Linked DNA regions of Homo sapiens: regions 2 and 3 are each linked to region 1. The links come from fine-mapping of genetic effects on gene expression. A gene starts in region 1. Each other region holds a variant in brackets. All regions are shown on one strand. Distances are between the middles of the regions. Region 1 holds the start of CHUK (component of inhibitor of nuclear factor kappa B kinase complex). Region 2 holds the start of LOC124902583 (small nucleolar RNA U13). Region 3 holds the start of ERLIN1 (ER lipid raft associated 1).

Evidence for each region. PIP is the estimated chance that this variant, and not a neighbour inherited with it, causes the effect.
Region 2: its variant is fine-mapped to the expression of CHUK in whole blood (TOPMed, PIP above 0.99).
Region 3: its variant is fine-mapped to the expression of CHUK in whole blood (TOPMed, PIP above 0.99). The same link has a PIP of 0.9 or more in lung.

Annotation. Positions count from the first base shown.
Region 1 is chr10:100,225,673-100,234,130 of GRCh38, forward strand. CHUK (component of inhibitor of nuclear factor kappa B kinase complex) reads right to left here and starts at 3,924. Exons shown (of 21, transcript NM_001278.5): 1 at 3,756-3,924; 2 at 251-345. The coding sequence starts at 3,860. CWF19L1 (CWF19 like cell cycle control factor 1) reads right to left here. Exons shown (of 14, transcript NM_018294.6): 14 at 6,626-7,699. The coding sequence ends at 7,555. It overlaps CHUK-DT (CHUK divergent transcript), which reads left to right and starts at 3,988. Exons shown (of 4, transcript NR_186419.1): 1 at 3,988-4,052; 2 at 5,343-5,454; 3 at 7,559-7,771; 4 at 8,281-8,458. RefSeq lists silencers at 3,662-3,901, 4,971-5,233 and an enhancer at 4,012-4,061.
Region 2 is chr10:100,012,271-100,020,728 of GRCh38, forward strand. LOC124902583 (small nucleolar RNA U13) reads left to right here and starts at 7,324; the gene lies at 7,324-7,429. RefSeq lists enhancers at 1,678-1,797, 1,808-2,357 and a silencer at 8,398-8,458. The variant T/C (reference allele first, on the strand shown) is at 4,009.
Region 3 is chr10:100,185,584-100,194,041 of GRCh38, forward strand. ERLIN1 (ER lipid raft associated 1) reads right to left here and starts at 446. Exons shown (of 11, transcript NM_006459.4): 1 at 1-446. The coding sequence starts at 43. CHUK (component of inhibitor of nuclear factor kappa B kinase complex) reads right to left here. Exons shown (of 21, transcript NM_001278.5): 18 at 8,401-8,458; 19 at 7,715-7,848; 20 at 5,286-5,385; 21 at 2,717-4,044. The coding sequence ends at 4,015. RefSeq lists a silencer at 344-493 and an enhancer at 664-813. The variant TAAATA/T (reference allele first, on the strand shown) is at 3,342.

The sequences.
Region 1 (8,458 bases):
TACTGTTTTCCGTAACAGTTGCACAATTTTACATTCCCACCAACAGTGTGTAAGTGTCCTAGCTGATTTTAACTAAACCTTCTTAATCTTAATGTGATATTATTATTTGAAATAGAATATATTTAATGAGAGAAAAAAATATATGTTCCCAAAAAGATCCTGAGAAGAGTGGATTCCTGGCCTCTTTCCCCATGATGACATCTGGTTGGGCTGTAGAACCAGGGAAATGTAAGTCAAGGAATACACTTACTTCTTCATAATCTGGATTTCATGGCACCATCGTTCTCTGTTTTTGGTACTTAGCTCTAGGCGACAAGACTTAATTGCTATTTTGAGATCAAGTTCCTGCCAAAATAGAAAATCAACAGAAAAAAAAAATTAGGTTCTTGTGAAGATTTATTTGCTACCAAAGAAATAACTTAAGACAACAAAACTTTTTAGCTTTACTAATTAAATATATTTATCCACAGCTCTCTTGAGGCAATGCTTTTTAAAAAGATAAACCATGAGACTATTACACCAATGCTTTAAAACTGACCTTCAAACACACAACAGCATACAAGGGAAAAGTGCCTGAAACTGATTTTATAACAGGTCTTTTCAGAACTCTCTCTCATATATAATGTTAGAAAAAAAAAGATCCTGTCTCCTCAGCAAACCCCTTTCAGAGCTTAATCAAGACAACTAATATGTGCCCCAGCTTCTAGCATAACTAAAATGAAGAAGGTAATTCAGGGCTTCCTGGACTCCAAACAGCAAGAGAAAGTTTTAATATAACCAAGCCTAAAGCAAAAAACTCCAATCCTAATGTATGCATTTCAAATGACATGAAGAAAAAAAATCCTACCAATGAGTGTACTTCTGCTTCCATAGCTACATAATGAACCTAACATCTCTTGCCTGTGACTAGTAATTTAGCCAATTCTGACTGAAATTAAACCCATTCTGATGCATATTACAGGAAATAGCCAGACCCCATCATATTCTGGCAACATTAATAATGCAGCTCAGAAATAGCAGTCAGGGCTAAACAGGCTACACTATGTTTCTGATATCACAAGGAGAGTTCAAAAGAATTTCCAACATATGTAATCTCTGACACAAACCAGAGTTGTAATAAAGGCTGTGTATGAATACAGAGAGAAGAGCCCAGGGGCCAGGACAGAAAAAATATATTATAGGTGGGGAAGCAAGACATAGCTTGGATAGGGTAGTGTGAATTGGAGGGTGAGAGGAAAAAAGAAGCTAGAGATAAGATGATACCTGGTGCATAGAGAAGAAGGAAACTAGGATAGACTGCATGCTAGCCTACCCACAGTTCTCACTCCCTTCAATCTTCCTTTTGTTATGAGCAGGTGACCAGTTATATCTATGTCCCATGCAGGCCTTTACCACCATGGAAATGAGAATCAGGCACAACCATGAACAACACTGAGCCCTGAATGCTCATGTTAATGGAGCAATAAGTTATCTATTTCAAAAATCCCACTTTGTAAGATCCTTCAACTCCTTAATTTATATTTCATCAACTCTGTGAAATTCTACCTTTTCACAAAGAATATTCTATGGGAAGTTTATAGATGTACAACAACAACAAAAAAGTCGGAATATTCTGGAGATAGGGTTATGGCTGTACAACAACGTCAATGTACTTAATGCCACCTAACTGTACACTTAAAAATAAAGTGATAAATGTTGTGTTATGTATACTTTACCATAATAAAACAAAAAGTGATTAATTCATCCATCCCCACCCAGGGACCAAGAAAAGAAGTCACAAAAGCTGCCAGCATGCATCCTTTTTCCTTATGACCAGGCGGATAGGCAGGCTTAGGTAACACAGGCAACATGCCACTGGAAGCACTTGGCTCCCACTTTTTTTTTTTTTTAGTGTGTTATGTTCCCTCTGATGGTGAGAATTATTAAATTTACTACTTATCCTGCTATCACAGGACTTAATGCCTTAGTCCTTCACCTTCCATTCTCTTTCTCCAAGATTTTCTCCTATGCCCTATCTAGAAACCTGGTTCACAAAACTTCCTCAGTTCTAACAGTTTCAGTTGTCATTCTAATTACCCTAAATATGCCTATTTTCCCAAGGTAGACTCCTATCTCCCCTTTCTCCCACCCCAAATTACGAGCTTTCTCACTACACCCATGTTCCTTTAGATAACAAATTATTACTTTTCCTCTTGAATTAACTTCTCTATTCACAAGCCAAGCCCAGGCATTTTAGTAAGATCTTACCTGTTCATCTTGTCCCATATGTTGTTCCACTCAAATTTATCCTTTACAAAACCATTTTCCTAGAACAACACTTTTTATCTTGACATTTCCTTAAGGCCAATTAATGAGGAGCATTATGATCATAGCAGCAACAACAACAAAGTAGCAGCAGGTGCTAACAGTTGAGGGCTTTCATGGGTCAGGTACCGTATTTAGCTTTACACACATTACTATTTTATTTAACTCTCAAATCCATGATGCATGTAATTATTATACTATACTTACTTTACAGGCAACAAAACAAAGCCTATATTACAGGAATTATTAGTCCAGGGTCTATTTACCTAAAATGTCCTTTAGGAAGGCACGAACCTCTCAAATGGCAATGCATGGTTGTGTGAATGTGCATCTGTGCATTTTTCTGGGGAAAGGGTTCACAGCTTTTATCGGTATATCAAAAAATACATGTCCCAGGCCTGGTGCCGTGGCTCACGCCTATAATCTCTGCACTTTGGGAGCCTGAGACAGGTGGATCGCCTGAGGTCAGGAGTTCGAGACCAGCCTGGCCAACATGGTGAAACCCCGTCTCTACTAAAAATACAAAAAAATTAGCCAGGCACGGTGGCGGGCGCCTGTAATCCCAGCTACTCAGGAGGCTGTGGCAGGAGAATCGCTTGAACTCGGGAGGAGGAGGCTGCAGTGAGCCGAGATCGCGCCCTGCATTCCAGCCTGGGCGACAGAGTGAGACTCCGTCTCAAAAACAAAAACAAACAAACAAGACCCAAATATGATTTTTTAACTGCTACTACAATGGTTAAACATTCTCTATTAAATCAAAGTAAAATTCTTGAGTCTGATGTTAACTGTCCTCCACCTACTAGAGCGCCCCCCATCTCCATCTACTAATATAGCCTTTCGTTTGAAGCCATGCTCTGCACCAACTCACCCTCATACTGTCCCGACCTGGAATACATCCCCAATTCCAAAGCCCATCCATGCTTCCAAAGGCTTAACTCTGGACCCATCATGAAGCCTTCCTTGTCTACTCCAGTCCCCACTGATATCATATGGCCTCCAAGCGCGCGCGCGCGCGCGCACACACACACACACACACACACACACACACACGGACGCACACATTCCCAAAGGCAGTCCCCTTCAGCCCTCTTCTCACACATTCGTGCTCCTACATACACACTGTGACGTGCATCTGCCTCACACACCCTGACACTCCACATTCACAGAGACACACACGCACTGTCACACTCACTAAACACCTGGTCACAGCCTGACAGTCATACCCAAGTTCCCCGCAACAGCTCTATCTATGCCCAGTACCTCAAATACAACTTTGGACACACAGGCATAGTATCTTTCTCTCTAATACACACACACAAGCCCACTGGCCCCCAAATACTGCCCAAGGTCCCACCAACCATCTATCCCACACTGTCAGCCCTGTGTTCCACAGACGCTCAAACCCACCGCCGCTCCAACCCACCGCCGCTCCCTCTCACGCCCCGCCTCACCCGATGCTGGTACAGACAGACGTTCCCGAAGCCGCCGGTGCCCAGCCGCTCCCGCATCTCCCAGGGCCCGCCCGCGCCCGGCCGCAGCCCCGGGGGCCGCTCCATGGGGCGGGAGGGCAAGCGGCCTCAGGTTCCACAGTTGTTCCAAGGCCGGTTCCGGGCCGCCGATGCTCGCGCGTCTTTGTTCTCGCGAGAATGAATGCGTCACTTCCGGTAACCGCTGCGAGAAGGCCCTTCCCTAAGTTCTCCCAGGGCGCTGCCAGAGCCCTGCCGGCTAAGGGATGGGGAAACAAACAGGTACTCGGTCCGCTCTTTAAGTCCCCTACGTATTTTCCGGGAGGGCTGAACGGAACCACAATGTTTTTCTAGTCTTGGAAAACATAAGATCTCTCCAAACCCCACATTCCCGTCAAATCCACTTTTCAAAGCAGCCCAGTCTCTCCTGTATTTTTTTCTTTTTAATTAAGATGGGGTCTCGCTCCGTTGCCCAGGCTGGAGTGCAATGGCACGATCACGGCTCACTGCAGCCTCGACCTCCCGGAATTAAGCGATCTTCTCACCTCCCGAGTAGCTGGGATTGCAGGCGCGCACCACCTCGCTTGGCTAATTTTTTATTTTTTGTAGAGACATGGTCTTGCTACGTTGCCCAGGCTGGTCCCGAACTCCTGGTCTCAAGTAGTCCTCCCACCTTGGCATCCCAGAGTGCTGGGATTATAGACATGAGCCACCGCGTCCAGCAATTAGTCTTTTCTAAACTTCATATTGTCTCTACTCCTATCTACACTTCACCTTTCTTCAGATCCCTGCCATCTATCCTCCAACTCCACCACCAGCTGATCCGGCACGCTAAAGACCACCAATGATTTAAAGGCTGCGAAATCGTTAAAATACTACGCTAGCAGGCCCACTAATGAATTAGCCTTCTTGTTCACTGACTTCCCAATACACCTGCTCCAGGATATCCCCTGTCATCCCAAATGACTCAAGAATGTGACGCTATTCCGGAGTGAAGAGTGTTTCTCGGGATTTCGCGAGCTTTTTTCCTAGATGCCTCACAGAGCTTGCTGTCCGGCAGTCCAGTTATGGGTTTGCCAGCACAGTAGTTCATTGTGAGAAGTGTTTCTAATGGGTGCTACAGGGCTGCAGAGGCAAGCTTTGGGAATGCTGTTGGTGCAGCAAGTGCTTCCGGGTGGCGGATTGCCATAGCATAGGGGAAACAACTCCTGGTCTTCCATTTAAGAGGGTCATACCTTCACTGTACCTGGGGGATCTCAATACTCCAAGTAAAGGAATCAGCATGGAATCAAATTATTGATAAATGTGATGCTGCAACCAGAATGTTGAGCACTGCATGATACAGACGAAGTCGATGTTGTAGGTCATTAGTAACATGTGGTATGGGAGGTTCTGGTTTCTGTAAGTGCATGGTTTCCATGGACTTGGAGATGATGATGCCTCTGAGGACATGTCATTTAGAGCTGGGCAGACCGCACAGAGAATTGTGGTACAGATTGTTGTAACAGTATGAAGCCCTCTCATTTGCTGTATGTACAGCATGGCCAGTGCTAATGTGCTCAATTTCCGTAGGTGGGGCTGTAATCTCGTAATTCCCAGTCAAAAGAGGTAGGAAGGGATGCTGAGGACCCAGGGATACTGATGATTGGGCTGACCCAGAAGTGGCCATCTTTGTGGAAACCAGGTTGGTTCCCTTGGTTAACTTTTTAAATGCCCCCATTCCCAGGGCCATGAGTAATTTGAGTTGTTTTTTGTTGTTGTTGTTGTTATTGTTTGAGATGGAGTTTCACTCTTGTCACCCAGGCTGGAGTGCAATGGTGTGATCTCAGCTCACTGCAACCTCCACCTCCAGGGTTCAAGCAATTCTACTGCCTCAGCCTCCCGAGTAGCTGGCATTACAGGCGCATGCAACCACGCCCAGCTAATTTTTTGCATTTTTAGTAGAGACGGGGTTTCACCGTGTTGGCTAGGCTGGTCTCAAACTCCTGATCTCAGGTCATCTGCCTGCCTCAGCCTCCCAAAGTGCTGCAATCACAGGCATGAGCCACCTGGCCTGTTTTTTAAAAAGCCTAAGCCTGTTGACCCCAGGCTCCACAATCTTCAATTTTCCGAGTCTCAGTTTTTTTTTCATGAGTAAAATAGAGGTAATACCTACCTCACAGAGATTTTGTGAAGATTAAATGAAACAGTGTCTGGACCATAAGTGCCCAATATAAAGGTAAAAATATTTTTCTTTTTGCGCCTAATATGTAGCATTCTCTTTGCTCCTTCTCTATGTAAATGTTAGATCACTATTTTCAAGCACTCCTTAAATACTGATATTTCTCAGGTAATCATCTTCAGCTCAGGACTGTATTTACCCTATCTTAATTTCACCTATGGCCTATACCCTGATGATCCCCAAAGCCCTGTAACCAACCCAGGTACTGATGAGTTTAGAACTGCCCAGCAGCACAACAGACACATATTAGATATATCAAGCACCTAAAACAATATCCAAAGGAGAATTATCTTTTTTTTCTTAAATCTGTCCCTTCTATTCCCCATTAAACTGTAATCTCTGGGACAACAGGGACCATATTGGGACATGACTATGGTCCTGGAGCTTAGAAAAATGCCTGGCACATAGGAGTTAAATATCCGAAGGACTAAATGGGCTCTTATCTATGAATAAGATGAATGCTTAAGAGAAAAATAGCAAAAGCCTTGGATCCCTTTTCCACTTTGGGTTGTTCAGGGAGAAACTGCCCTGTGTGATTTTGGAGTAACAGCTGGGCCTAAAGCTCTAGCCCCTGCTATTACACATACTACTTCATTTCAACGGTCACAGGCAACATGAACACAAGACACTTCTCAACCATGGAAAAACATCTGGATTTCATTTGGTAGTTTAAAGGTTTTTGAAAATGTTGATATACACAAGCTGTACTTGGAGCTGGATAACAGACATAGGAGCTGGATGACAGACATACTTTTATTCTTTTATTTTTGAGATGGAGTTTCACTGTCACCCAGGCTGGAGTGCAATGGAGCGATCTTGGCTCACTGCAACCTCCACCTCCCAGGCTCAAGCAATTCTCCTGCCTCAGCCTCCTGAGTAGCTGGGATTACAAGTGCCTGGCACCACGCCCAGCTAATTTTTGTAGCTTTAGTAAAGACGGGGTTTCACCATGTTGGCCAGGCTGGTCTCAAACTCCTCACCTCAGGTGATCCACCTGCCTCGGCTTCCCAAAGTACTGGGATTACAGGCGTGAGCCACTGCGCCCGGCCTTAACATAGGATTTTCATCCTAGAATGACTTTTCCCCAAAAAGATTCAATCTTAGGCCTCTTGCTGTAGGCAAGTTCCATGGGACTGCACAAAAGAGGCAGGGAAACAGTCCCCATGGGAGATTGTAGTTTCTTTAAAAATAGGCTTCTAGGCCAGGAATGGTGTCTCATGCTTGTAATCCCAGCAGGTTAAGAAGCCAAGGCAGAGGATCCCTTGAGCCTAGGCATTACAGACCAGCCTGGGCAACACAGGGAGACCCTCCTGTCTCTATAAAAAATCAAAAAAGTTTGCCAGGCATGGTAGCATGCGCCTGTGGTCCCAGCTACTCATGAGGCTGAGGTGGGAGGAACTCTAGAGCCCAGGAGGTTGAGGCTACAGTGAGCCACAGTTATGCCACTGCAATCCTGCTTGGGTGACAGAGCGAGACTTTGTCTCAAAAAAAATTCTTTTAATTAAAAAAAAAAAAAAGCTTTACTACTTCCTGTGGAGTTCATAAAAAGTTCTTCCCTTTGTTTTAGTCATCCAGAGTAAAGTCATAGGGCTCAAAGTCTTTCCGGAAGCGGCGAGCCAGGGTCTCCTCGTCTTCCTTGCTGATCTGACACTGCCTCCAGTCAGACTTATCAGGAACATTAAGGATGGCTTCACTGGCCAGGACCTCCCTGCAGAAATAGCACAAAGAAGTCAAAATGGAAACTATCAGCCTGAGCTCTCCTCAACATCACCCAAAGGAGGTATGCAAATTTCTCTGACTTTGCTCTCCTGCCCTGAGTGCCATCTCTGCCATACTATTGATCAAAATCATACCCGTTTTAAATGACCAGCTCAGGTACTATATATTTCCTGATCCTTCAAACCCCACTTGCTTCTCCCTCTCTTAAAAAACTTGGAACTATATTATTGGTACTTAGAGAAGCAACACCACATAGAAAAAGGGCAGGCCCTGGTGTGAGAAAGATCAGAGACTGGATCCCATTTCCAGCTTTGCCACTTGCTATCTATGATCTAGACAGATGATTTCATCTCTGAGTCTTGATTTCCTCACCTATGAAATGCAAATAAGAACACCCACCATACAGGGTTTTTGTGAGGTACAGAGATAACACAGTCAAAGTGCCATATTAGCTGTGATTACAACCTGCCTTAAACTGTAGTTTTGTCACCTCAACTAGACATGAGTTTGCAGAGTCAGGAGCCTAGTCATACCCACTCTGATTTAAAATTCCTCTGCCTCTCCTTCTAGGGGACTCAGGCCCACGTAACAGCAGCACAAGCCCAATGTCAACAAAACAACTATCTTGGCTCTTAGGACTAAAGAATAACTACATACAGACACACTCACACACAAGCTGCCTTCTAATCGCCATTGCTTTATATTTTTATTTTTACTTATTTTGATATATTAGAAATAATTCTATTAC
Region 2 (8,458 bases), 210 kb before region 1:
TTAGCCAGGATTGTCTCCATCTCCTGACCTTGTGGAGTTTTTAAAGATAATTTGGCTGGTGGGGTCTTGAGAAGTGGGGAGTGCTGATTGGTCAGGTTGGAGATGGAAACATAGGGGGTCAAAATGAGGTTTTCTTGCTGTTTTCTGCTCCTGGGTGCAATGCAGAACTGGTTGAGCCAGATTACCGGTCTGGATGGTGTCAGCAGATCCATCAACTGCAGGGTCTGCAAAATATCTCAAATACTGATCTTAGGTTTTGAAATAGTGATGTTATTCCAGGAGCAATTTGGGAGGTTCAGGCTCTTGGAGTCAGAGGCTGCATGACCCCTAAACTGTAATTTTTTTTTTTTTTTTTTTTTTTGAGACGGAGTCTTAGTCTACCGCCCAGGCTGGAGTGCAGGGGTGCAATCTCAGCTCACTGCAACCTCCACCTCCCGAGTTGAAGCGATTCTCGTGCCTCAGCCTCCCTAGTAGCTGAAATTACAAGCATGCACCACCACGTCCAGCTAATTTTTGTATTTTTAGTAGAGATGAGGTTTCACATTGTTGGCCAGGCTGGTCTCAAACTCCTGGCCTCAAGTGATCCATCCACCTCAGTCTCCCAAAGTTCTGGGATTACAGGTGTGAGCCACCACTCCCGGCCTTAAACTGTAATTTCTAATCTTGTAGCTAATTTGTTAGTCCTGCAAAGGCAGACTGGTCCCTAGGCAAGAAGGGGGTCTTTTTGGCAAAGGGCTATTATCAATTTTGTTTCAGAGTCATGAACTGAATTCTTTCCCAAAGTTAGTTCAGCCTATGCCCAGGAATGAACGAGGACAACTTAAAGGTTAGAAGCAAGATGGGGTCAGTTAGGTCTGCTTTCTTTCACTTCATAAGTTCCTCAGTTAAAATTTTGCAAAGGTGGTTTTATACTTTTCATTTATCAATGAATTCTTACTGTACATTTGTGATGTAACAGGCATTGTGCTAGGTGTTTGGCATTCAGGCTGACCAACACAGACAAGATCCTTGCCTTCATGGAGCTCACATTCTAGAGTAGGGTAACAGACAATAAAGAAATAAACAAATGATAATCCAGACAATCATGGGGTGTAGTTGAGTGTTATGAAGGAAACAAACCAACTGATGCGATAGATTAGATCACAGAGAATTAAAGCCTAGTGCCCTAGGCATTTGTTGTATGTAATGAGTTAACTTCTCTCCTATGCAATGTTGGGGCTTAGAAACCAATACCCTAAAATAGGGTGCTTTGTACATGTTGAGCTGAAAAAGCAGTCTCAAGGTCTCTCTCAACCTCCTCCCACCTGCCCCTCTTCACTGTCTCTCCCAAAGCATAGTATTCTCTGAAGTTTCCTTATCTGTCCAAAGTCCTGACCTACCAAAGAAAAACAATTATCTCTGATCTCTTTCCTGAGTTTTAATTAACTGAACCCACATTGCAAGAAAGAAGACCAAAGTCTGTCAATAAACCTGGACAGACTTTTGTCACAAACCACTGTCTGGTCTGCAGGCCCAACAGACTTTGTCCCAGACCATTGGAAGTTCCTCAAGTTCATTGAATTCTCCCTAGTAATCATTTATTGCCCTCAATAGAATTCCTCTTCTTCACCCTCCCATAACCTGTTTTGCCAGCATCCAAGTCACCATTTTTTCTGTAGCCTCAAGATGGTACATAAGCTTCTGCACCCCATTGGGGGGTTGGTCTTCCGTGTCACATAAAACTATTGTCAAACAGATGCATATGCCAATTAATCTGCCTTTTGTGACCTGATTTTTCAGCAAAACTTCAGAGGGCGAAGAGGAAGTTCACCTGACCCCAACAGCAACCAGAACAGTTCAAGTCATACTCAGTCCTTGAAAGAACTAAGAGGACAATTCACTCCACACAGCTTCTATGTCATGTGGTTTAGATAAGGAATCTAGGCTGATAAAGGCCAAAGTGAGGGATGGGAACCTTCTCTGAATATAGAGATAGTTGGGGAAATCCCCTCTGGGGATGTAACATTTACCTGAAACTTGAATAATGAGAAAGAATCAAGCCGGACATGGTGGCTCAAGCCTGTAGTCCCACGATCTGCAGTGAGCCATGATGGCACCACTGCACTCCAGCCTGTGTGACAGAGTGAAACCCCATCTCAAAAAAAGAGAGAAAGAATCAGCCATGTAAAGAGCTCTTCAGGCAGGAGAAACTGCAGGTGCAAAATCTTGAAGTAGAAAGCCATCTAGTACGTTTCGGAAACACAAAATAAGCCATGTGAACAAAGGAGGCAGTTTTATGAGATCAGATTAGAAAACAAACAGGGCCAGGTGCAGTGTCACGCATCTGTAATCCCAGCTACTTTGGAGGGTGAGGTGAGAGGCTCACTTGAGCCCAGAAGTTCAAGATTGCAGCACATTATGATTGTGCCTGTGAATAGCCACTGCACTCCAGCCTGGGCAACATAGCAAGACCCTGTCTCTTAATAATAATAATAATAACTATCTTTTTTTTTCTTTTTTTTTTTTTGAGATGCAGTCTCGCTCTGTCGCCCAGGCCGGAGTGCAGTAGTGCGTGCAATCTTGGTTCACTGCAACCTCTGCCTCCCAGGTTCAACTGATTTTCCTGCCTCAGCCTCCCAAGTAGCTGGGACTACAGGCATGCGCCACCACAACCGGTTAATTTTTGTATTTTTAGTAGAGATGGGGTTGCATCATGTTGGTCAGACTGGTCTTGAACTCCTGACCTCAGGTGATCCACCCTCCTCGGCCTCCCAAAGTGCTGGGATTACAAGCATGAGCCACCGCACACGGCCAAATAATAACTATCTAACAAACAGTATGTAGGTCATTTCTGGTTTGGTGAGCCATGGTAAAGAGATTGATTTTTGTGATAAGTTGATGTATTGAGACGTGATTAAAATATCCCCAAATGAAGGGACTGAAATGAAAATAACCAAACGAGATAAATGTGTGTGGAACTGCCTTGTTAACAATAAGGATTATATCTGTATATGTCATATTAAAACTAAAAAGTACATTGTTTTTCCCCTTGAATAATCCTCAATAAACCAAAACACAGAATGGCTCAATTCATATTTTGATTCATCTAATTGATTAAAACTATTTGGGTGTGTCATCCTTTGATATACCGTAAGTACTATCACGGTTATGAGGGGCTGCACCATGAACTAACAGTTTGGCATGACTTGGCCCCATATCAAAGGCAACTCCCTCTGGCTTCCCCCCACAATGCACCATGTCACAGCCATAAGCTGTTGTTTGCAATGGCAAGCAGATGAGAGTAGTGAGCTGCTGAAACTAATCAAAGCTGGCCTTGCTCATGCTATGTCAGCTAACCGTCCATCCTGGAATAGCCAGGGGACCAAATTCCAGGGTGGTGGGGAGGAGGGGATGTATAGATAAAATACTGTTAATATATGCTTATTTCTATTATAAAAGAAAATGTGATCCAACAACCTAGTGATAGAACATGGAAGACATAGGTTTGCATCCTAAAATGTCAGACATCACATGAAAATACTAACAACTATTCATCAAAATGTTGACACAATGCACCTGGCAGTCTCATGGCCAAGGTTCAGAACGGTGAGAATTCAAGTTGAAAAGAGATCGACAGAGGAAGATTGGTGATCAGATCTCACAGGCAAAGGAGAAGTCAGCATGGTTTTCTTTTCTTTTTTTTTTTGAGACGGAGTTTCACTCTTGTTGCCCAGGCTGGAGTGCAATGGCGGGATCTCGGCTCACTGCAACCTCCGCCTCCCGAGTTCAAGCAATTCTCCTGCCTAAGCCTCCCAAGTATCTGGGATTACAGGCGCCCACCACCACAACCGTTTAATTTTTCTATTTTTAGTAGAGATGGGGATTCACCTCGTTGGCCAGGCTGTTCTCGAACTCCTGACCTCACCTCAGGTGATCCACTTGCCTCGGCCTCCCAAAGTGCTGGGATTACAGGCGGAGCCACCACACCCGGCCAAGTCAGGATAGTTTTCACAGAGGGCATCTGTCTGG[T/C]GGACTTGAACTAGGACAAGGCCAACTCCTAGAAGACAACAGAGGCCATTTGGTTTCATTTAGGGATAGACCCTGGTTGGCAAGAGTAAGACCAGGTCTTGTTTTGTTCTTCCTAGAAGAGAACAGACCCTATAAGAAAGCTTCTGTATTCTGAAGAAAAGACTGTATCATGTTTATCTTCAGGGCTGTTCTTAATATATTGATATATTGATGCCTAGGGACTCCTCTTCCTATCTACTTGCAGAAGCTTGAATTGGTTTACGGGAAAACAGAGAATTATTTCACACTCAGAAGTAAAAACCATGGCTGGACGCAATGTCTCACACCTGTAATCCCAGCACTCTGGGAGGCTGAGGTGGGGTGGATCGCTTGAGGCCAAGAGTTCAAGACCAGCCTGGCCAACATGCTGAAACCCTGTCTCTACTAAAAATACAAAACTTAGCCGGGCATGGTGGTGTGTGGCTGTAATCCCAGCTACTTGGAAGGCTGATGTGTGAGATGTATCTCCCTCAAACCTTGCTACAACATTAGTAATGTACCAATGTCTGACATTAAAAAAAAATCATTGGCTTGTAAAATAAAAGCCTTCTATAAACTACAGTGTGTTTCAAATACTATATTTGAGTATTTTTAAAAAGAACAAAATTGTGGTCACTTTATTTCTTCATTTATTTATTCTTCCTCTGATTCCAGAAAGGATTTAAGGAAACTCACTCAATTCCTTTGATCTAGTGCCGGGATGGACTTCATCCCAAAGGGCTCACATGGGACAATCTAAAAGGAAGTCAAAGATGCCTTTTCTCCCCGCTCCTGCGGGGTGAACATGGATCCAAGGGGTGACTTTCTTTGCCGAAGTAGGGGGATCACCTGAGGTCAGGAGTTTGAGACCAGCCTGACCAACATGGTGAAACCCCGTCTCTACTAAAAATACAAAATATACTTGGGCATGGTGTTGCACACCTGTAATCCCAGCTACTCAGGAGGCTGAGGCAGGAGAATAGCTTGAACCTGGGAGGCGGAGGTTGCAGTGAACCGAGATCGTGCCACTGCACTCCAGCCTGGGCAACAGAGTAAGATTCCATCTCCAGAAAAAATAAAATAAAATAAGGGCCAGGCATGGTGGGGCACGCCTGTAATCCCAGCACTTTGGAAGGCCGAGGTGGGTGGATCACCTGAGATCGGGAGATCTAGACCAGCCTGACCAACATGGTGAAAACCTGTCTCTACTAAATACAAAAAAATTAGCCGGGTGTGGTGGCGCATGCCTGTAATCCCAGCTGCTTGGGAGGCTGAGGCAGGAGAATTGCTTGAACCCAGGAGGCGGAGGTTGCAGTGAGCTAAGATCATGCCATTGCACTCCAACCTGGGCAACAAGAGCGAAATTCCATTTAAAAATAAAAAATAAGAATCAATAAAAACAAATTAACTAAAAGAGAGCATTCTGAATGTTTTCACCACAAAGAAGTAATAAATATTTGAGATGATGGATTTGCTAATTACTCTGATTTGCTAATTATACAATGTATACATATATTGTACCCCATAAATATGTACAATTATATGTCAATGAAAGATAAATAAAACAGAAAAAAGTCACAGTAAAATCAAAATGATGCTTAAATTCAACAAAATTATAATGCTCTTTTGTTGTTTTGTCCACAACCATCATTCCTGTTTTTTTTCTTTTTGAGATGGAGTCTCGCTCTGTTGCCCAGGCTGGAGTGCAGTGGCATGATCTCCACTCACTGCAACCTCTGCCTCCCACGGTCAAGCAATTCTCCTGCCTCAGCCTCCCAAGTAGCTGGGATTGCAGGCATGTGCCACCATGCCCGGCTAACTTTTCTATTTTTAGTAGAGACGGGGTTTTATGTTGGCCAAGCTGGTCTCGAATTCCTGGCCTCAAGTGATCTGCCTGTCTTGATCTCCCAGGGATTTTTTGTTTGTTTGTTTTAATGGGAAACAACTCATCTATACTCGCAGTCCCCCATATTTCCATTCCAGCACCCAGAAGTGATCATATGACCCCAGACTGACCAATCAGAGTCACTGTGATAGTTTTAGAGATAGGCACGTAATCCAGTTTGTGCTATTGAGATTCATGCTCAAGAATCAATAGTTTGTTGCTAAACTGTGTTAAATGAAATTTATAGGAGGCCATTGGGTGGAACTGAGCTCTTGCACTAGGCTTAACAGATAAAACCAAAATGGAGTTACTCATACTGAAGTTTCCACCAAGCCAAAACTAAGCTATTTATTTGATCTTCCAAGAAATCAGGCAAGAAATAGATAATAGCCAAATCCCCAAACAGGCCTGTTTTGGGAAGCATGATGAGGTGGCCCCCTCTGCTTTAACCTTTATAAGGAAAGTAACTTTGTAACAACCAATCAGTTTTTGTTCTGTTCCTGCGTTCTTCAGCCCTCTTCTGCCTATAAAGTCAAATTTCTCTGCTCAACTCATCTGAACACTCATTCTATCTTATAGAATGAGTTGTTGCCCAATTCTAGAATTGCAAATAAAAGCCAATTCGATCTTTAATCTAAATTTGTTGTAATTTTGTCTTTTGATAGCTGAGAGAAGATAAGCTAAAAGGAGCTGTTGTTCACCTTGCCTCATGGAGAGAGACTATGTGAGAATGAAGTCACTACTGAAGACAATGAAATCAAGAAATGGAGAGAGATTCCATACCACCTAACTTAGGCACCTCAATCCAGCTATGTCTGGATTTTTAGTTATATGCCAATAAAGGTCTCATCTCTAAACTACTGGCTCAATATGCCAGTCTAAGATGGAAGATTTACTATTTCCTAGTAAGATGAGAAAAATTTCATTTACAAGACTTCTTTATTCTGAGATTATACCTTTCCTAATTTTTGGTGTTAGAGTATTTACGAATTGATGGTGATAGTGGATAACAATTGTATTTTACCAATAGTCCTTAATAGAAAATTAGAAAGTTAGTCCAAAATAGAAAGTAGCCAGGCATGGTGGCTCATGCCTGTAGCCCCAATACTTCGGGAGGCTGAAGGAGGAGGATCACATGAGCTCAGGAGTTCAAGACCAGCCTGGGCAAGATGGTGAAACCCCCATCTCTACAAAAAATTTAAAAATTAGCCAGGCATAGTGGTACATGCCTGTAGTCTCAGTTACTCAGGAGGCTGAGAAAGGAGGATCACTTGAGCCCAGGAGGTCAAGGTTGCAGGCAGCTGTGATTGTGCCACTGCACTCCAGCCTGGGCAACAGAACAATACCCTATCGAAAAAAAAAAAAAAAAGAAAGTTGGTGGGCCCTTTATCCTTCCATTAAAAAAAAATTAGGTCATTTTGTAGGTCATAAGCATGATGATTGAGTTTTCATGCTCATGCGTGAGATGTACCTCCCTCAAACCTTGCTACAACATTGGTAATGTACCAATGTCTGACATTAAAAAAAATTATTGGCTTGTAAAATAAAAGCCTTCTATAAACTACCGTGTGTTTCAAATACTATATTTGGATATTTTTAAAAAGAACAAAATTGTGGTCACTTTATTTCTTCATTTATTTATTCTTCATCTGATTCCAGAAAGGATTTGAGGAAACTCACTCAATTCCTTTGATCTAGTGCCCGGGATGGACTTCATCCCAAAGGGCTCATATGGGACAATCTAAAAGGAAGTCAAAGATGCCTTTTCTCCCTCCTCCTGCAGGGTGAACATGGATCCAAGCGGTGACTTTCTTTGCCTCCTCCCTGAGACTGCAGGGGGAGGCAGGCAGAGTAACAGCAGAAACAAGCAGTGCTTTTTCTGTTTGGCTTTTCCCCGGGCTGCTGGCCTCTTATCCCTTCATGGCTCCAGGCAGTGCTTCTTAGGTGATGCTACACCCACCTGCAGCAGGGCCTGGTGGGGTGGGGGCGAAGGGGTGCAGGAAGTATGTGAACAGAATGAAGGTGGGAGAAAGAAAGATTAACGAGTAGCAGTGTGGGGAGGATCATGAAGTGGTGAGGGAAAGAATAAGAGACAGTAGGGGTAGGGGGAAGCCTTTATAAATAGTGATATTTAACTTCTGGGAGGAGGGAGAGAAGTGATGTTTGCTTAAGCATTTGCTCAGGGGGAATGTTTACTCATGGTTAAACCCAGAATACAGTTAGTGTTAAAGTAGAAATGAAGCTGCATTCCAGGCAGGAGGTGGGCATGGTGGATTGCAGGGTGTGTGCTGAGAGTGTGTGTATGAGACAAATTGTGGTACCACATGTGTAAAGATGATGCTCTAGACACAGGAAGTCTAACTTCTCCAGTTCTGATGGCAGATTTGTACCAAGTCATGCTGTCCTACTTTCTATATCCTTGCTTTCGAGATGGCTGGTTGGGTTTAGGGGTGTTTTCTGTGGCCACGGAGAAAGTGAATCTTACTGGCTCACTTATTAATAGACTCAGTGTGGTTTGGATGCTACACTGTCTTGGACCTATGCTGA
Region 3 (8,458 bases), 40 kb before region 1:
CCACCACTGCAGCCACCAGAACCCGGGCTTGAGTCATATTCATTCTCGTTCCTCCTGGGAGCGGGAGAAAAGGACCCTCAGTCCCGTGAGTGACAGGTCCACCCCCTCCAGTTTCTACCCTCTCCCTCCGGAAACTTGGCGCTCTCTCGCAGGCTGAGCCGGGGAGTCCAGTACCCCTGTCCCCTCATTCTTCCCTTCTGGCTGAGCCCGCTGACCCCTTGCCAACTCCTCCGCCCCCGGAGGCCAGTGGGCCGCCCCTGCTCGGTGAGCTTCCTGAAACTCCCTCTCCCAAGGGTCGCTCCCGGGTGGAAGGCACTAACTGAGAAGAAGCCCAGCCGCAGGCTCGCGAGGAAAGCCGACCCCTCGGCCGCGCCTCACCGATCAGTGACGCATCGCCCCCGCCCGCACGTGCAGCCGACTCCCGCGCCGAGCCAACCGCCGCCAACAGCCGGCCCCGCCCACTCGCCCAGCACTGCGGCTGCGCGGGGACGCACACGGCGTAGCCCCGGCCCGCGGCTAGTGAGACGGGGAGCGCATGGGACAAAATTCTCCTAGCCGCGGGCCGCGCAGGCTCCTTTGGAGGCAAGTCGCTTTCTGTACACTGCTGGTTAACTGCTTCGGAAGAGGACAGCCCGCAGTCTGGAGTGAGCAGCGAAGCAGAGAAAAGGAGACGCCCTTTCGGACAAGGGACTGGTTGGTTTGTTCTTGTGCAGAGAACCCACTCGCTCACTCTCAAACGGTAGCTGTTCGGTTTATTTGTCCTTTTGCAGTGTATGCGGAGCCCCACTGTGTGGCACGCACTTGCTTCCGGCAGAGATCCTGCCCTTCAGGAGCAACTAAACTTGTTGCAAATAAAGTGCTGTGAAAGTTCAGAAGAGGAAGATATTAGATATAACGGCATCATTCTCTCGTTTTTTAAGTGTTCCTATTATGTGCCAGAATGCTGGTCCAGTGAGGGCTTTATGAAGGCCATCCAGACTACAGGAACAGAATTGCTAAGCACATGGGGCGGGAGGCGGAGGGAATCCTCCAGGGAGACCAAAGTAAGTACTTCAGTTTCCTTGAAGGCTTGTGTGATGGGAAGGAGTGCTATGGTAGGCGTCACTACATATTCTGTTCGTTTTAAATTAAAAAACCATGGGCACATATTGCCAAAAATAAAAAAGGGAAGGAAAAAGGTATAGTTGGGAGATAGATGAATACAAGAGAAATTAAGGACATTAATGGTTTAAGCCTTGAAAGGCTAGAGGTGGAACTATAACTGGACAAGGTGGACTAGGGTTGTAAAGTCCTCTAACCCAGCGGACGGGGTGGGGGTGTGTGTGGGTTGGGGATGAAACTGTTCCACTTCAGATCATCAGGCATTAGATTCTCACAGGGAGCCGGCAAACCTCACATGTGCAGTTCACAATAGGGTTCGCGTGCCTATGAGAATCTGATGCCACTCGCTAATCTGACAGCAGGCAGAGCTCAAGGCGATAATGCTCACTCGCCCGCCGCTCACCTCCTGCTATCCGGCTTGGTTCCTAACAGGCCACTGTCTGGTTCCGGTCCGCGGCCCAGGGCTTGGGGACCCCTGCCCTCTTGGGTAGGGAAGTATGGGAAAGCAGTGCTTTAGGGCCAATGAATCTATAAAACGGCTGAAAGTGGAGACAGACTGTTGGCAAGGAAGTCAAGTGGTTAGGAAACTGCAGGCCCAGGGTTACTTAGTAGTGGAAGTAAGAAGAGGTAAATAGAATCAATCCGTCTTCATTAAAGCAAGACTTCCCAGACCACTCTACCCACACCCTTCAATAAATACACTTACCTGTATCATTCATTTGATTTTTATTATCTAGGAATGTCTGGGACCTTATCTGTTCCAAATAAATGATATTTGCAGAGCTTAGCTATTTTAACTTCCAAAAAGCAAAAAGAATGGAAAATAACTTGCTCCATACCCTGTTTTCTGTAGACATTCTCTGAAGTTTTTCATAATATTGCTTAAAGAATGAAATGTATACAATTCACAACTGCCATTCCCCTCTGAAAAGTTGTTACCCACCAAAAAATAGTGGTCCAACTCATGCATCAAAAGCAAGTTTGGGGATCCCACTATAATAGTCTGTTCTGACTCACACCATCTGCCCAAATTATATAGATCAGGCTGCCCTGACATAACCCCAGCCACACACCAGCAGCGGCCCCCACGCTATAACAAATCTTTAACCAATTATTAAAATATTAGAAAATGCATGACCATTGAAAATAATCCTTAACAATAATTGCAATGCTTGGATGGCTTGTAATGTTCAGACTCCCAGATAAGCACTTTTACTATACTGCCTATGTTGTTTCAGATCTTGCCATCTAGCTTAATACCCTCCAAGTAACAGGTACCCAATAAATGTTTATTACTAAAATCTTCTAAAACCAGGGAAACAAGAGAGAGACTGCCTATTATAATAGATGACGAACAGTGATATGTGATGACTAAAAAATTTGGTTGACTAGGAAAATGATACCACTAGCAAAAATGGGGATGGTGGGGCTGTGACATCAGTTTATAGGGCAAGAATCGAGCATGTTTTTTAGATGTAGATAGTGGTGATAGGACATCTCAGAGGAAAACACTCTTAAAGAAGTTGCCCAATACTACCTTTACCATAAGTCCTATTATTCCTAAGGAAAGTACAGTTATTCTATGCTCTTAATTCCACTTCATGGAACCTTCATATTTTCCTAAGCCATATTCAACTGTTTTATTATAATCTGATTTTTATAATGAATAGAGATCAAGAAAGTAATTTAAAAACCATTTAATACACAAAGTGAAAAACTATTAGAATATAAAAGCATTTCACATTTTTTAAGACAAATAATATCTTCTAAATTACTTAGCAGATGATAGAGGTCCACAGTCCTTTCTCTGAAACCCTTGGGGCAAGTTGTTTCAGAATTATGAAATTTTAGATTTTAGAAAAGTAGTTTTGTGCATATACCATACTACATTAACCAGCCCTCACCACAGTCTGTGGCAGCAGCCCTCCCTCTCATCATCAAGCAGCAAAATAAAGGAATATTCACACTAAATGGGATAAAAAGATTCAAGGTCAGTTCAGATTAGATTGCAAGCAAATGAATTTTGTCACCAAGCTTATGGAAACCTTGTTTTCAGAGCTTTTTGGATTTTGGAATTACAATTACAGATAAAGGAGTGCAGACCTTTATAAATTTGTATGACAAGACATGAAAGATTGTTTAAACAAATGACTCATTTTTACAAATGAAAAAACATGTAATTTTCAAATACATTATAAATTAACAGGCATCTTCTCTTTGATATTATTAAATGTACATCT[TAAATA/T]CATATACACACAACAACATGATTTATGAAAGCCAACTAATATTAGAAGCACAGATACACAATCCCTTCGATGAGAAGGGGATACTGTTAAATTTTCAGTGGAATTTAAAATGATTACACCAACTCCTTATGATGCCAGGAAGAGAACCTGTTCAGTGCAACACAAGGAGGTAGAATTTATTCTTCAAGAAATAGAACTTGTGAGCAGCCTTTTTAGAAAAAAACACAGGTAGACTTTTACTTAAAATGCCTATTACTTGAGGTTTTCTTCTCTGTATACAAAACTACATTTGGTCTTACGCCCAAAAGTTAAAAGTTGACACTAATACATAGAAGGTATTTTTAATCAGTTAAATAAGTAATGTTTTACCAAGACTGAAGGCAAATGTGTCGTGATGATGCTTCTAAATAGCTGTGGTATTAAAACAAATATTCAAACAAGTACATTGACTTTTTCTAAATTCCTGTCTGTTTAGAGGCTTGAATTACTCAAAACTGTTATACTTGTAAAATCATGTTCTTCTGATCATAGTAGAAATGTAGTTTCTGTTCATAGCCATTTCTTCCATTGACTGATGTCTGAAGAATGGTTTCATGGGGGAAAAACACATTTCCAACATGTATAGCAACAACTTCCATAGGTTTGGGGACAGTGAACAAGTGACAACTCATTCTGTTAACCAACTCCAATCAAGATTCTAAAACCAGGCATGAAAAAGTTACAATTAGATGTTGACTATAAGTTATAAGTATATGGGTGTTCATTTTTGCAAGTTTTCTGTTTGGACATTTCATAATCAAAAGTTGAAAAATCATTTCATTTACCTTATTTCCTGATTTAAAAAAATTTCAGAGTTTTTTTCATAAATATTTGAAGTAAACAATTATTCTTTCCTTTTCTTTTCTTTTTTTTTTTTTTCTTAAGAGAGCAGGATCTTGCTATGTTGCCAAGCTGGAGTACAGTGGCTATTCACAAGTCCAATCATAATGCACTGCAGCCTTGAACTCCTGGGCTCATGCAATCCTTCTGCCTCAGCCTCCCTAGTAACTCGGACTACAGGTACATGTCATATGGCTGGCCACCATTATCCTTTTTTTTTTTTTTTTTCCCCGAGACAAAGTCTCACTCTGTCACAGGCTGGAGTGCAATGGCAGGATTACGGCTCACTGCAGCCTGAAACTCTTGAACTCAAGCGATCTTCCTGCCTCAGCCTCCCAAGTAGCTGGGACCACAGGTGTGTGCCACCACACCTGGCCAATTTTTATATTTTTTATAAAGACAGGGTTTCCCATGTTGGCCAGGCTAGTCTCAAACTCCTGGGCTCAAGCAATCCACCTGCCTTGGCCTCCCAAAGTGCTAGGATTACAGGCGTGAGCCACCATGCCTGGCCACTGCTATTTTTCTTAATGAAAGAGGAAATGTACAGAATTGACATTAAGACTAAATGCAGGAAAAATTGATTCAGTAGACATTTTATGGTAATTTCCTCAAGTTTTAACAAATCAGTAGTTTATAGTAACCAAATCTTAACACACACTTATTATTACAACTATATTAACATAATTTATTTTCTATTCGGGAGGTACCATATCTGAATTAAAGTACAAGTCCCATCTTAATGGAGAAAATTGATTGCTGAAGCAAAAAGGTACAGAACAAACCATTCAATTTCAATGGTCACATTGTGAAGAAGCTTACCACTCATTTAATTTGACCAAAAATGCTATTATTGAAGATAATTGATGACATAATCCTAGTATATCCCTGAGTAACGGCAGATAAGGATTTAAGGTTGAGGATATTCCCCAAATGCTCTTTCCTCTTGAGTTCTTCTATTTCCCATATGCATCCCAAATGCCAGATAAGGCTAGCATGGAAAGTTAAACCTTTTGCACCCAACATAGCCAAAGCAGGCACCCATATCCACACAAAACTTACCATCATACTATTGCCCTGTTCCTCATTTGCCTCATGAATAATAGTGCTTAAATGGCCAAGGCAGTTCAAATTTTCTTCTATCATTTGTGCTGAAGTCTCCCTGTGAGATGAAAGAACAAAGCCTTTTCAAACTCAGGAAAAGGGCATATGAATTTCCTCTACTTTCTAGTCTTCTAGGTTAGCAAGATCACTAGCCTTCCTGTAACCCAGTACCCCAGTGCAGTTGACTCCTGTAGTCTTTAGTTTCCTCATCCCTCCCTACAGAGGCAGAGTCCTGTTAAGACCAGGCTGCTGCCTCTACCTCTACCTAACTAATGATAAGAAGTCCACTATAACTCCAGTCTGACTTTCCTCTGAAATGTAAGATGCACTTATGTACAACTTGTTTTTCCCGTGAAAATGTAACTAGGGAGGAAAAAATCCTTGTGGCAAAGACAGATGAAATACGTTTTTGTTTCTAAATACTTCTCTTTCCTTAAAAGTAGTAAAAACACCAGCATGCATACTTCACAGACACAAATGTAGGGGAGAAGAGAGAAAAGTAAAATCTGTTCTGTAGAGATCACAGAAAGTGAAAAACTCATTAGAAACTACAGATGATAGCAATGAAACGAAACAAGCAAGCTGATTCCTGAGGACAGCAAAAGAAAACAGTGTGGTGGGGGAGCTACCCAGAACCAAGAAGTATCCCTGGAAGTTCATATTTGAAGGCAGTCCTGATTGTGGTTTCTACCTTCATGCTTTCCTCTTCTATATGGCCTCTAGCTTCTCCCTTTGCCAATCTTCAGTCCCCTAACAAGAGTCCGTTTTAGGTCATGGATGATAGCCACTATTAGCTTAGAATGACATTCTGATTCAGCTCTTATCCAACAGATGGAAAAATTATGGTCAAACAGTTCCCAATCCTTGGTAGTTAAGTACCACAGGTACATTATAATTGAAATCAATTTTCTTATACAATGTATTCTGGCTGGACATGGTGGCTCATGCCTGTAATTCCAGCACTTTTGGAGGCCGAGGCAGGTGGATTACTTGAGGTCAGGAGTTCGAGACCAGCCTGGCCAACATGGTGAAACTCCGTCTTTACTAAAATACAAAAATTAGCCAGGTATGGTGGCACGCACCTGAAATCCCAGCTACTCGGGAAGCTGAAGCAGGAGAACTGCTTGAATCTGGGAGGCGGAGGTTGCAATGAGCCAAGACTGTGCCACTGCACTCCAGCCTGGGCGACAGAATGAGACTCCGTCTCAAAACAAAATATAATGTGTTCCTTCTAGAAAATACATTGAAAATGTCTGTCAGATATACTTTTGCAAGCAACTACACTTCAAATTGGAAATTACCTGTATTGTGGTGACATTTGTAAACATTAACATCCGCTAAAAAACTTAAATGCCTTTAATAAAGGCAAAAAAGTAAGTAAAGTATTAAATTTTACTTCCTTCAACTCTGATTACTGGAGTATTTTGTAAAGTCTATATATTTAATTATAGCCTGTGCTACAGTTGTAGGTGTACTGCATTGGGCCACATGTATAATGACCCCAAGATATATACCCTGGAACTTGCTTTCTTTAAAAAAATAAAATACCTGATATCAGCTTGCCTTCCTGCCATGTGCTTTTCTCTCATAAAAGTAGAGTACAGAATGTGCAACTGCATGACCTCCTGAGCAGTGATGTAACATGGCTGCACTTCTGCAAAACTAATTATGGGCAGAGCTTCCAGGAAATGCTGGTGCTGTAGAGGTCTCCATGAGTTGTGAGAAAAGCGACAATACACAAGCTAGCAAAGAGCCACTGGCTTTGGATACGGCACATCTTAAGCTGAGAAAATAACAGAAATGGATAGTCATTCAGCTTTTAGCAAAAGAGTAGGAATTAATAAAATATAGGGCTTGGAATCTGAGTTCTTGCAAAACTGATTTAAAACACTGAAAAAAGTCTAATCTTAGAAATACAAAGTTATAAAATAGATCTCAAAAATTTATTAGAAGGGTAATCAAGGATCCCCAAAATGATAAATGCAAAATGATAGCATAATTTCTCATAAACTGTTAATGAAGGAGTAAGGTTTGAGTAAAAGAAAGTAATAAGCCAATAAAAGAAAGGACTTAGAACTTGGACTTAGCTAATAATAAGCAACATTTGAGCTAATAATACGCAACATTTGCTGAACATTTATTTCCCAAGCACTTTATATACATTGTCTAATCAAATTTCCACAGCAGTTCTATGAGACATTCCTGTTTTACAGGTGAGGAAATATGAACATCAAAAAAGTCAAGTAAGTTGCCTAAGATTATTACAAAGGGATAGTCAGGACTCAACCCTGGTCTGAAGGCACAGAAGACTACCTTAACAACTACTGCCTCATTCCTATACCACTGCTATGAAAACACAGCTATCTATTGTTACAAAGTAAACCCACCCATCTTGAGGAGTTACCACACATGACAGAGAATGATCATGTTCTGCTGAAGTCGGGGGCAGCCATGCTGATGTCTGAGGGGTTACTGCACCTTCTAGACTGGATCCTACAAGGGACCGGGCAGAACTCTGTGTCTGAAGGAAAAGAAAAAAACATCAAAAGATTACAGGCAAGCATCTCTGTTGATTCACACAATTTCTTATCATATTCCTAAGACTTACATTTCCGTTACTACTTATATGCACAACCAGAGTATTTCAGTACAAAACTATTCCCACCTTTACACACCATTAGTAACCTGTCCTTGGACCCTTTCTTCATTGACTAAAACCAAATATATCCACTCATCTTATACCATTTTAGTTGAAGAAAGAAAAAAAAAACCCAGTTGAATAGATGGTCAATTTCATTATCTAGGCAGGTACATCTATCCCCAAGTTAGGTTGGAATACCACAGTAGTCAAGGGCTAAGAGGAGTATAACAACAGAGAAATTGGAAAGGAGAGATGATAATAAGTCCTGCATCTCAATTGCTAGTCTGGACACCAAGCAAGGAACATGGATGTCATCCCAATGCAAAATATACATGTCTTCAAGAGGGCCCACCTCATGCTGATAAAAATCCCCTTTGCAAGGAATAATAGCAACTCAATGTCACATTAAATAATTCATTAATAATTACTTACACAGGCAATTTTAAGGAGATGCCATATTTCTTTCTGCCTTTTTCCCTGCATGAACATG